Homo sapiens: one gene and its partners. The protein of the gene in region 1 interacts with the protein of each later gene in a pairwise test. Each region holds a gene or a part of one and is shown in the gene's direction. Other genes may lie near its edges.

Region 1 (3,751 bases):
GGCTAATTAAAATATATATATATATTTTGTAGAGACAGGGTCTTGCTATGTTGAACAGGCTGGTCTCACACTCCTGGGCTCAAGCTGTCCTCCTGCCTCTGACTCCCAAAGTGCTGGGATTATAGGCGTGAGCTACCACCCTGGGCTGGAGTCTTTGTTTAATGTCTGATAACACTTTTAGACTGAAAACAACATGAAGGCAAAAATCAAATGTGTTGGTTCAGCATATAGCAGAAGGCCTGATTTATTGAAGATGCTTGGCTGGATGCAGTGGCTCATGCCTGTAATCCTAGCATTTTGGGAGGCTGAGGCCAGAGGATCGCTTGAGCCTAGGAGTTCAAGACCAGCCTGGGCAACATAGACCTCATCTCTATATTTAAAAAATGAAAGAAGATGCTCAATAAATTTTGCTAATAAAACAAGTAATTTTCTAAAATCTAATAACGGTCTAGTTGTTTTTTTGTTTTTTGTTTGTTTGTTTGTTTGTTTTTTCAGACAGGGTCTCACTCTGTCGCCAGGCTGGAGTGCATGGCGCAACCTCGGCTCACTGCAACCTCTACCTCCCAGGATCAAGCGATTCTCCTGCCTCAGCTCCCGAGCAGCTGGGACTACAGGCACGCACCACCATGCCCAGCTAATTTTTGTATTTTTAGTAGAGACGGGGTTTCACCATGTTGGCCAGGATGGTCTCCATCTCTTGACCTTGTGATCTGCCCGCCTTGGCCTCCCAAAGTGCTGGGATTATAGGCGTGAGCCACCACGCCTGGCTGATAACAGTCTAGTATTAAGTGATATGTTGAAACCTATTATCTTCTGTGTCTTGGCGATTATATTCTCCAACAAGAAAGTGTTCTTAATGGAATAAAAGAGGCTTCTGATTATTATTTTAGTTGACTCACCTTAGAAAAGGATTGTTCATTTTGGGAGGCTGAGGCAGGAGGATTGCTTGAGCCCAGGAGTTGGAGACCAGCTCGGGTACGTGGTGAGACCTTATCTCTATTAAAAACAAAAAAACAAAAAAAAACAGGCATGGTGGTGCACACCTGTAGTCCCAGCTACTTGGGAGGCTGAGGTAGGAGGATCACTTGAAACCAGGAGTTCAAGGTTGCAGTGAGCTTTTTTTGTTTGTTTGTTTTTGGGGTGTTTGTTTTTTGAGATAGAGTCTTGCTCTGTGGCCCAGGCTGGAGTGCAGTGGTGTGATCTTGGCTCACTGCAACCTCCACCTCCCAGGTTCAAGCGATTTGTCTGCCTCAGCCTCCTGAGTAGCTGGGATTACAGGCACCCGCCACCACGCCCAGCTAATTTTTGTATTTTTGGTAGAGACAGGGTTTCGCCATGTTGTCCAGGCTGGCCTCGAACTCCTGACCTCAGGTGATCTCCCCCGCATTGGCCTCCCAAAGTGCTGGGATTACAGGAGTGAGCCACTGTGCCCAGCCACAGTGAGCTTTGATCACACCACTGCACTGCAGCCTGGGCCACAGAGCAAGATCCTGTCTCAAAACAAAATAAAATAATTGTAATGTAGGTTTTGGTAACCACATGTGTCTTTTCCTCTTCAGAATGGAGATCTCCTCTCATCAGTCTCACCTCCTGCAGCAACTGAACGAGCAGCGCAGGCAAGATGTATTTTGTGACTGCAGTATTCTAGTTGAAGGGAAGGTCTTCAAAGCACATCGAAATGTATTATTCGCTAGTAGCGGCTACTTTAAAATGCTTCTTTCTCAGAATTCAAAGGAGACGAGTCAGCCAACCACAGCTACATTTCAGGCTTTCTCCCCTGACACTTTTACAGTTATCTTGGACTTCGTATATTCTGGCAAACTGTCTCTTACTGGTCAGAATGTCATAGAAGTGATGTCGGCTGCTAGCTTCCTTCAGATGACTGATGTCATAAGTGTATGTAAGACTTTTATTAAATCTTCCTTAGACATTAGTGAGAAAGAAAAAGATCGCTATTTCAGTCTCTCAGATAAAGATGCCAATTCTAATGGTGTAGAACGTTCCTCTTTTTATAGTGGTGGCTGGCAAGAAGGAAGCAGTTCTCCACGTTCTCACCTAAGCCCAGAGCAAGGAACAGGTATAATAAGTGGAAAATCTTGGAATAAGTATAATTATCATCCAGCCTCCCAGAAGAATACTCAACAACCCTTGGCCAAGCATGAACCAAGGAAAGAGTCCATTAAAAAGACCAAACATTTGAGATTGTCACAGCCTTCTGAAGTTACTCATTATAAGTCAAGCAAACGAGAAGTACGAACATCTGATTCTTCCAGCCATGTTTCCCAGTCTGAAGAACAAGCACAGATTGATGCTGAAATGGACTCTACTCCTGTTGGCTATCAGTACGGTCAAGGATCTGATGTCACATCCAAAAGCTTTCCAGGTACCCAAAAAGAGCATAAGTCCCCTCATCCAGGTTCCAAACTGCTATATTAATCAGTCTACTGTCAAAACACCCTTAGTTTCAGGTGCTCTAAGCAGTTGAAGCAAGTGATTTTTTTCAAAAGTTCTATTTTTGTAATGAAATTTATTTAGTAAGGATAGGCGTGGTGGCTCACGCCTGTGATTCCAGCAGTTTGGGAGGCTGAGGCGGGCAGATCACCTGAGGTCAGGAGTTCGAGACCAGCCTGGCCAACATGGCAAAACCCCGTCTCCACTAAAAGTACAAAAAAATTAGCCGAGCATTGTGATGTGTGCCTGTAATCCCAGCTATTCAGGAGGCTGAGGCAGGAGAATCACTTGAACCCGGGAGGCGGAGGTTGCAGGGAGCTGAGATTACACCACTGCACTCCATCCTGGGCGATAGAGTGAGACTCTGTCTCAAAAAAACAAAAAAAGAAGAAATTCATTTCATAAAACGTGGATTTAAATTTTTTAATTCAAAATAATATTGAATAAATATAATGACAATCAAAATAATAAGAATACTAAGGGTCAAAACCCATGATTTTCCAAACCTGTATCTGTGGGTGGTTAGATTACTCTTAAATGTTTAAAGCTCTTTTCTAAATAGTTCAATCCCTGAGACACATATTTTCACTTTAAATAGTTTTTTTTTTTCCTGTGTACTTACTCAGAGGAGTATTTAGCTTATTAAGATACAAATACAGGCCGGGCACAGTGGCTCACGCCTGTAATCCCAGCACTTTGGGAGGCTGAGGCGGGCAGATCATGAGGTCAGGAGTTCAAGACCAACCTGACCAACATGGTGAAACCATGTCTCTACGAAAAATACAAAAATTAGCTGGGAGTGCTGGCGCATGTCTGTAATCCCAGCTACTCAGGAGCCTGAGGCAGAAGAATCGCTTCAGGAGAACCCAGGAGGCAGAGGTTGCAGTGAGTGGAGATTGCGCCATTGCACTCCAGCCTGGGCAACAGAGCGAAACTCTATCTCAAAAAAAAAAAAAAAAGCATAGCAGTCTGAATTTACCCAACTTTCTAAATATATCAAATACCGAAGTTAAAGTTCCATACTTAGGATTACATTGACAATCTAGTCTTAATAAAATTTCTTTCGTCTCTTACTTTTTGGGCTAACCAACTCCTTGTGAATTCTTTTTATTTCTTTTTTTTTAAGTTTATTTTTTTCTTTCCTTGTTTCCATTGGGCTTGGATTGGATTCTTTCTGTTATTAGAATTGTTATGAACTTTCCAGTGATTTAATCAAAGCGTCTCTTGACAGATGATCTGCCTCGGATGCGATTCAAGTGCCCGTACTGCACACATGTGGTGAAGCGGAAGGCAGACCTAA
Region 2 (3,751 bases), on another chromosome or scaffold:
TAACCTGCAGTGACCCTCCCACTCTGCCAGTCGGTGATTCTGTGAAGTGGTGTAAAGGGCTGTGAGCCTCAGGCATAAACAGACAGCAGGGAGAGACTTAGTATACTCCACTCTGCCAAGAGAAGATACACTGGCAAGCTGCAGTGGGATGAAAATCGGAAAACTGCCTGCCCCAAGAGCTGCCCCACAGCCTGATGTGCAGCTTAAGCAGAATTCTCTGAATTATCCTCATTACATTTATAATGAAAATGCCTATTAGGAAACTTACATGAGTCTGTGCTGTTTCCAAGGCATTTTTTTCCTATCTAAAAAATGTCCCTGTTTGTTGTTGTTGTTTTTGAGACAGGGTCTCACTCTGTTGCCCAGGCTGGAGTGCAGTGGTGCAATCTTGGCTCACTGTAACCTCTGCCTCCCGGGTTCAAGCCATTCTCCTGCCTCAGCCTGCTGAGTAGCTGGGATTACAAGCATGTGCCACCGCACCCAGCTATTTTTTATTTTTAGTAGAGATGGGGTTTCACCATGTTGGCCAGGCTGGTCTTGAACTCCTGACCTCAAGTGATCTGCCCGCCTTGACCTCCTAAAGTGCTGGGATTACAGGCATGTGCCACTGCACCCAGCCTCCTACATCACCTTCTGATTGGCCCAGACATGTAAGTTTGGCTCTGCTGTGCCTCACTGAACAGAGTCATCAAGCTGGAGGACCCTGATGGCTCAGTCGAACTTTCTGTAGCTGGGCCATGATACATTTTCTAGAGCTGGGAGAAGGATGGCATGTGGACAGGTGAGACTGGCCAGCAAGCCTCTCCTGTTGACCCCACAGGAAGTCCACACCTGAAGGGGACCTTTGTGGGGCTTCCAGAGGGGCAGATCCAGGATCTGGACACTGGTCACATGCCTTGGGTCCCAGGCTTTGTGCCTGAATTGCCACAGAGCCATCAGGATGCCAGGGGTTCTGTTGACCCTTGCTATGTGAGGGCAGTTGGGCCTCAGTGCCCAGGTGACCTGGTTGGATGAGGGCTAGAATACAGCAGGCCTTTGGTCTGGGAGAGGGCCAGTGGGGCAGTGGACTGGTCACAGTTTTGGTCACCAGTCCCAGGATCCAGGTGTCAGGGGCTCCCTCCAGTGGCCCTTTTATGACAACTAAAGGAAGTCCTATTGTTCACAGCGAGGGTTCTCAGCTTGAAGTTCCTTGTGCCTCTTTTAGGGAAGACACTCAGATGGTATATCGAGTATAAAATGACTTAGCGATTCTTCTCCTCAAAATGTGTCATTTATGATCCTTTTGTAGTTCATGAGTGTGATGATTGTGTGTTCATACGCTTGTGTGAGATGTGCCACCCTTGAACCTTGTTACGACATTGGCACATTACCCGTCTGATCTGAAAAAAAAAGTATCATTTATTTACTTACCTAAAATCTATGGAGTGCTTACTATGTGCCAAGTGCTTTTTAAAGCACTTGGAATACCTGACTGCATGAACAGAAACACAAATCTCTGAGCTTGCAGTCTGATGGGAATAGGGGAGATACATAATAATAATCACAATAAATAGGTAAGTTCTAAAGTTTCACTGTTTAATACGGTAACTGCTACTCAAATGTGGCTATTTAATTAAAATTAGAATTACTTCTTCAGGCACCCTAGCCACATTTCAAGTGTTCAGTAGCTGTATTTGTCTCATCATTACCATACCGGGCAGCACAAATATGGAACATTTCAATAATTGCAGAAAGTGCTATTGGACAGCACTAATCTAGAATATGTTAAAAGGCAAAATGTGCTATGAAAAAAAATTAGAGATTTTTAAAGCATGTTGCAGGGGTGGAGAAGGTATTACAATTTTTTTTTTTTTTGAGACAGTGACTCGCTCTATTGCTCAGGCTGGAGTGCAATGGTGCGGTCTCAGCTTACTGCAACCTCTGTCTCCCGGGTTCAAGCAATTCTCCTGCCTTAGCCTCTCTAGTAGTTGGGATTACAGGCGCATGCCACCATGCTTGGCCAATTTTTGTAATTTTTGTAGAGACAAGGTTTCACAAGGGTGGTCTCGAACTCCTGACCTCAGATGATCCACCTGCCTTGGCCTCCCTAAGTACTGGAATTGCAGGGATGAGCCACCGCACCTGGCTGGAATTACAATTTTAAAGAGTAATTGTGGTGCACCTAATTTAGAAGCTTTTGAACAAAGATTATCAGGAGGTAAGTGAATGAGTCTTGGAAATACTTAGGAGAAGAGAATTCCAGGGCAGCGGACAAGCAATGCAGAGGCAGAAGCATACCAATTTGTGGAAGTGTTTGGAGTGCACCAGAGAAGAGAAGCAGAAAAGAGGTAATGGGGGCAGATCTCAAAAGCCTCATAGATCACTGTGTTATTCTACAGAAATCTATGAGGACATAAATATATGAGTACAAAAATGTTCTTGCAGCATTGTTTGTAAGCAGCAAAAAATTAGAGGTGAGGCCAGGCACAGTGACTCACGCTTGTAATCCCTGCACTTTGGGAGGCTGAGGCGGGCAGATCACCTGAGGTCAAGAGTTCGAGACCAGCCTGGCCAACATGGTAAAACCCCATCTCTACTAAAAATACAAAAATTAGCCGGGCGTGGTGGCACATGCCTATAATCCCAGCTGCTCAGGAGGCTGAGGCAGGAGAATTACATGAACCCGGGAGGCAGAGGTTGCGGTGAGCCAAGATTGCGCCACTGTACTCCAGCCTGGGCGACAGAGCGAGACCCCATCTCAAAAAAAAAAAAAAATTAGAGGTGACATACATGATTATTATTGGGGAGTGGTGACATGTTCATGCAGTGGTTGGTGAGGATGAGGGTGAAAGGATGAGGTTATAACCATGCATAGAAAGCATCCTGGAGGCCAGGCACAGTGGCTCACATCTGTAATCCCAGCCCTTTGGGAGGCCGAGGCGAGAGGATTGCCTGAGCCCAGGAGTGTGATACCAGCATGGGCAACATAGTAGGACCCCTGTCTCTACAAAAATTAGCTGGGCATGGCAGTGTGTACCTGTAGCATGACCTACTCAGGAGGCTGAGGTGAGAGGATTGCTTGAGCCCAGGAGGTTGAGGCTTCAGTGAGCCATGATGGTGACACTGCACTCCAGCCTGGAGGACAGAGCAAGAGCCTTTCTCTAAAAAGAAAGCATTCTGGTGCTGGGTATGGTGGCTCATGCCTGTAATCCTAGCACTGTGAGAGGCTGAGGTGGGTGCATCACCTGAGGTCCGGAGTTCGAGACCAGCCTGGCCAACATGGTGAAAACCTGTCTCTACTAAAATTATAAAAATTAGCCAGGTGTGGTGGCGGTCACCTGTAATCCCAGCTACTCAGGAGGCTGAGCCAAGAGAATCACTTGAACCCGGGAGGCGGAGGTTGCAGTGAGCTGAGACCATGCCATTGCACTCCAGCCCGGGCGACAAGAGCAAAACTCTGTCTCAAAAAAAAAAGAAAGCATTCTGGAGTCTGTAGGCTGCACCAAAAGGGCCATTATCCTGGTAGACTGGAAGGAGCCTGGGGCCCCTGGGAGTTGGGGTTTGAGGTGGCTGTGTGGCTTGTGCTGTCTCTTCTACTGGCAGTAGCAAAGGCCAGGGGACTGTTCAGGTCCTCCCAGACCCTAAACTCACCCCAGTTAGGGAAGAGTCACCAGTCGGGAGGGAATCACCAGAAGCTGAAAGCATACCCTGTGGATCCAGGAATGGCCAGGATGTCTGGGCACAGAATGAGGAATTGTACTTTTGCTGTGGA
Region 3 (3,751 bases), on another chromosome or scaffold:
GAAGAAATATTTACCAAGCCTTCTAGTAGGTAATTTTCTTTTTTAGCCAATAGTTCAGGCTGACCGTGTAACCATCCCTAGTTCTAGTTCTAGTTCTTTGAATGTCTTCCTTTTTTTTTTTTTTTTGAAACAGCGTCTTGCTGCTCTGTCACCCAGGCTGGAGTGCAGTGGCACAATCTCGGCTCACTGCAATCTCCGCCTCCCTGGCCCAAGCCATCCTCCCACCTCAGCCTCCCTAATAGCTGATACTACAAGTGTGCACTGCCACGCCCAGCTAATTTTTGTATTTTTTGTAGAGACGGGATTTCACCATATTACCCAGGTCTCGAATTCCTGATCCCTTTGATGAGAGATCTGACACATCCCTGTGGTGCTCCCTCTGGGCCAGGCACTGCTCCAAGGGTTTCATATACTTTCATTCATCTGTGCAACAGCCCTGTAGGTAGGCCCTGCAGTCACACCATCTGACAGAGGAGGAAACAGGAGTAGAAGAACTGAGTGGTCCAGGGCTTCAAGGCTCAGAGGGCTCCGGTTGCCCCCAGCCCTCGTTCCGTCCCCTGCTCCACCCAGTGCTGCTTGCCATGTCGGCATCAGGCCTGATCTGAAAGCTTCCGGAGCATCTTACAGACGTCCACCTTGCCACCATTCAGGACTGATAAGTTCTCTTGGATTTGCGTTGGACCTTTTTTTTTTTTTTAAGATGGAGTTTCACTGTTGTTGCCCAGGCTAGAGTACAATGGCATGACCTCCACCTCCTGGGTTCAAGGGATTCTCCTGCCTCAGCCTCCCAAGTAGCTGGGATTACAGGCGCCTGTCACCACGTGGTGCCCAGCTAATTTTTATATTTTTAGTAGAGGCAGGGTTTCACCATGTTGGCCAGGCTGGTCTCGAACTCTTGACCTCAGGTGATCCCGCCTTGGTTTCCCAAAGTGCTGGGATTACAGGCATGAGCCACCACACCCGGCCCAGGATTTCTTTATATATTCTGGATATCATCCCTTATGAAGTATATAGTTTGCAGATATTTGCTCCCATTGTTTGGGTTGTCTTTTCACTTGATATAGTGTCCTTTGATGCACAAACATTTTAAATTTTGATGCAGTGCAATTTATTGTTTCTTTATTGCCTATGTTTTTGTCATCAGGTTTAAGAAACCACCTCATCCATAGTTATGAGGATTTTCACCTATGTTTTCTTCTAAGAGTTCTGTAGTTTTAGCTGTTAAATTTAGGTCTTTGATCCATTTTGAGTTAATTTTTGTATATGTTATTAGGTGAGGGTCCACTTTATTCTTTTGCATGTGGATTTCCAGTTTTCCCAGCACCATTTGTTTAAAAGACTGCTTTTTCTCCACTGAATGGTCTTGGCACTTTTGTCCAAAATCAATTGGCAATATATGTAAGGGTTTATTTCTGAGCTCTCTCTCCTGTTCCATTGGTGTATATGTGCCAGTACCACACTGTTCTGATTATTATAGCTTTGTGATAAGTTTTAAACTCAGGAAGTGGTAGTTATTCACCATTTGCTCCTCTTTTTCAAGTTTGTTTTGTTTCTGGATCCTTTGCAATTTCATATGAATTTTAGGATCGGCTTGTCCAATTCTGCATAAAAGACAGTTTGAATTTTGATATGGATTGCATAGAATGTGTAGATCTGTTTGGGGCACATTGTCATCTTTACAATATTAAGCCTTCTGGCTGGGTGTGGTGGCTGACGCCTGTAATCCCAGTACTTTGGGAGGCTGAGGCGGGCATATCACTTGAGGTCAGGAGTTCAAGACCAGCCTGGCCAACGTGGTGAAACCCCGTCTCTACTAAAAATAAAAAACAAATTAGTCGGAGGTGGTGCACACCTGTAATCCCAGCTACACGAGAGGGTGAGGCAGGAGAATCGCTTGAACCTGGGAGGAGGAGGTTGCAGTGAGCTGAGATCATGCCACTGCACTCCAGCCTGGGTAACAGAGGGAGACTCCATCTTAAACAACAACAATAACAGAAGAAAAAAACAGTATTAAGTCTTCCAATTCATGAATGAAGGATCTGTCCATTTATTTACGTCTTTAATTTCTTTCAACAGTATTTTGTACTGTTCAAGTCTTGCACATTCTTGGTTAAATAAGTATTATTTTTGATGCTTCTCTAAGGAATTGTTTTTCTTTTCCTTTTTTTTTTGAGACAGAGTCTTGCTCTGTCACCCAGGCTGGAGTGCAATGGCACAATCTTGGCTCACTGCAACCTCTGCCTCCCGGGTTCAAGCAATTCTTCTGCTCAGCCTCCCAAGTAGCTGGGATCACAGGTGCCTGCCACCACACCCAGCTAATTTTTTTTTTTGAGATGGAGTCTTGCTCTGTTGCCCAGGCTGGAGTGAAGTGGCCCAATCTTGGCTCACTGCAAGCTCCACCTCCCGGGTTCACACCATTCTTCTGCCTCAGCCTCCTGAGTCGCTGGGAATACAGGTGCCTGCCACCACGCCCAGCTAATTTTTTGTATTTTTAGTAGAGATGGGGTTTCACCATGTAGCCAGGATGGTCTCGAACTCTTGACCTCAGGTGATCTGCCTGCCTCGGCCTCCCAAAGTGCTGGGATTACAGATGTGAGCCACTGTGCCCGGCTGGAGTTGTTTTCCTTAGTTACATTTTCAGGCTGTTTGTTGCTAGTATATAGAAATACAAGCTGGGCACCGTGGCTCACGCCTGTAATCCCAGCACTTTGGGAGGCCAAGGCGGGTGGATCACCTGTGGTCAGGAGTTCGAGACCAGCCTGGCCAACATGGTGAAATCCAGCCTCTATTAAAAATACAAAAATTAGTCTGGCATGGTGGCAGGTGCCTGTAATCCCATCTACTCAGGAGGCTGAGGCAAGAGAATTGCTTGAACCTGGGAGGCGGAGGTTGCAGTGAGCTGAGATCGCGCCATTGCACTCCAGCTTGGGGAACAAGAGTGAGACTTCATCTCAAAAAAAAAAAAAAAGAAATACAGTGGATTTTTTTATGTTAATCCTGTATTGATTGCTGAATTGGTTTATTAGTGCTAATAGGATTTTTTATGCACTATTTAGGATTTTCGATATATACAATCATATATATTCAATATATACAATTAATATATATGTGAATAGAGATAATTGTAGTCTTTGTTTCTAGTTTGCATGGCATTTATTTCTTTTTCTTGCTTAACTGCCTTAGCTAGAACTTCAAGTACAATGTTGAATAAAAGTGACTAGAGCGGGCCGGGGGTGGTGGCTCACACCTGTGTTCCCAGCACTTTGGGAGGTGGAAGTGGGCAGATCACTTGAGATCAGCAGTTTGAGACCAGCCTGGCCAACACGGCGAAACCCCATCTCTACTAAAAATACAAAAATTAGCTGGGTGAGGTGATGTGCACCTGTAGTCCCAGCTACTTGAGAGGGTGAGACATGAGAATTGCTTGAACCTGGGGGGCGGAGGTTGCAGTGAGCCAAGATCATGCCACTCCACTCCAGCCTGGACGACAGAGCAAGAACCCTGTCTTTAAAAAAAAAAAAAAAAAAAGTGGCTAGAACAAACATCTTTATCTTGTTCCTGATCTTAGGTGGAAAACTTTTTTGTTCCTGATATTAGGTGGAAAACTTTTAGTCTTTCACTGTTGAATATGATGTTACTTGTAGGTTTTCTGTAGATTCCCTTTATCGAGTTGAGGAAATTCTCTTATATTCATAGTGTGTTGAGTGTTTTTTATCATGAAAGGGTGTTGATTTTTTTTTTAAAGATAGGG

The links.
Region 2: the proteins of ZBTB8A (region 1) and KIF9 interact in binary tests that used the Homo sapiens proteins (3 or more experiments, as listed by UniProt).
Region 3: the proteins of ZBTB8A (region 1) and ZGPAT interact in binary tests that used the Homo sapiens proteins (3 or more experiments, as listed by UniProt).

Annotation. Positions count from the first base shown.
Region 1 is NC_000001.11:32,591,372-32,595,122, forward strand, and holds part of ZBTB8A (zinc finger and BTB domain-containing protein 8A), read left to right. Parts: intron 1-1,559; 5' UTR 1,560-1,560; coding exon 1,561-2,383; intron 2,384-3,682; coding exon 3,683-3,751. UniProt on the Homo sapiens protein: May be involved in transcriptional regulation.
Region 2 is NC_000003.12:47,248,152-47,251,902, reverse strand, and holds part of KIF9 (kinesin-like protein KIF9), read left to right. Parts: intron 1-1,276; exon of another isoform or gene 1,277-1,386; intron 1,387-3,751. UniProt on the Homo sapiens protein: Essential for normal male fertility and for progressive motility of spermatozoa.
Region 3 is NC_000020.11:63,710,919-63,714,669, forward strand, and holds part of ZGPAT (zinc finger CCCH-type with G patch domain-containing protein), read left to right. Parts: intron 1-3,751. UniProt on the Homo sapiens protein: Transcription repressor that specifically binds the 5'-GGAG[GA]A[GA]A-3' consensus sequence. Represses transcription by recruiting the chromatin multiprotein complex NuRD to target promoters.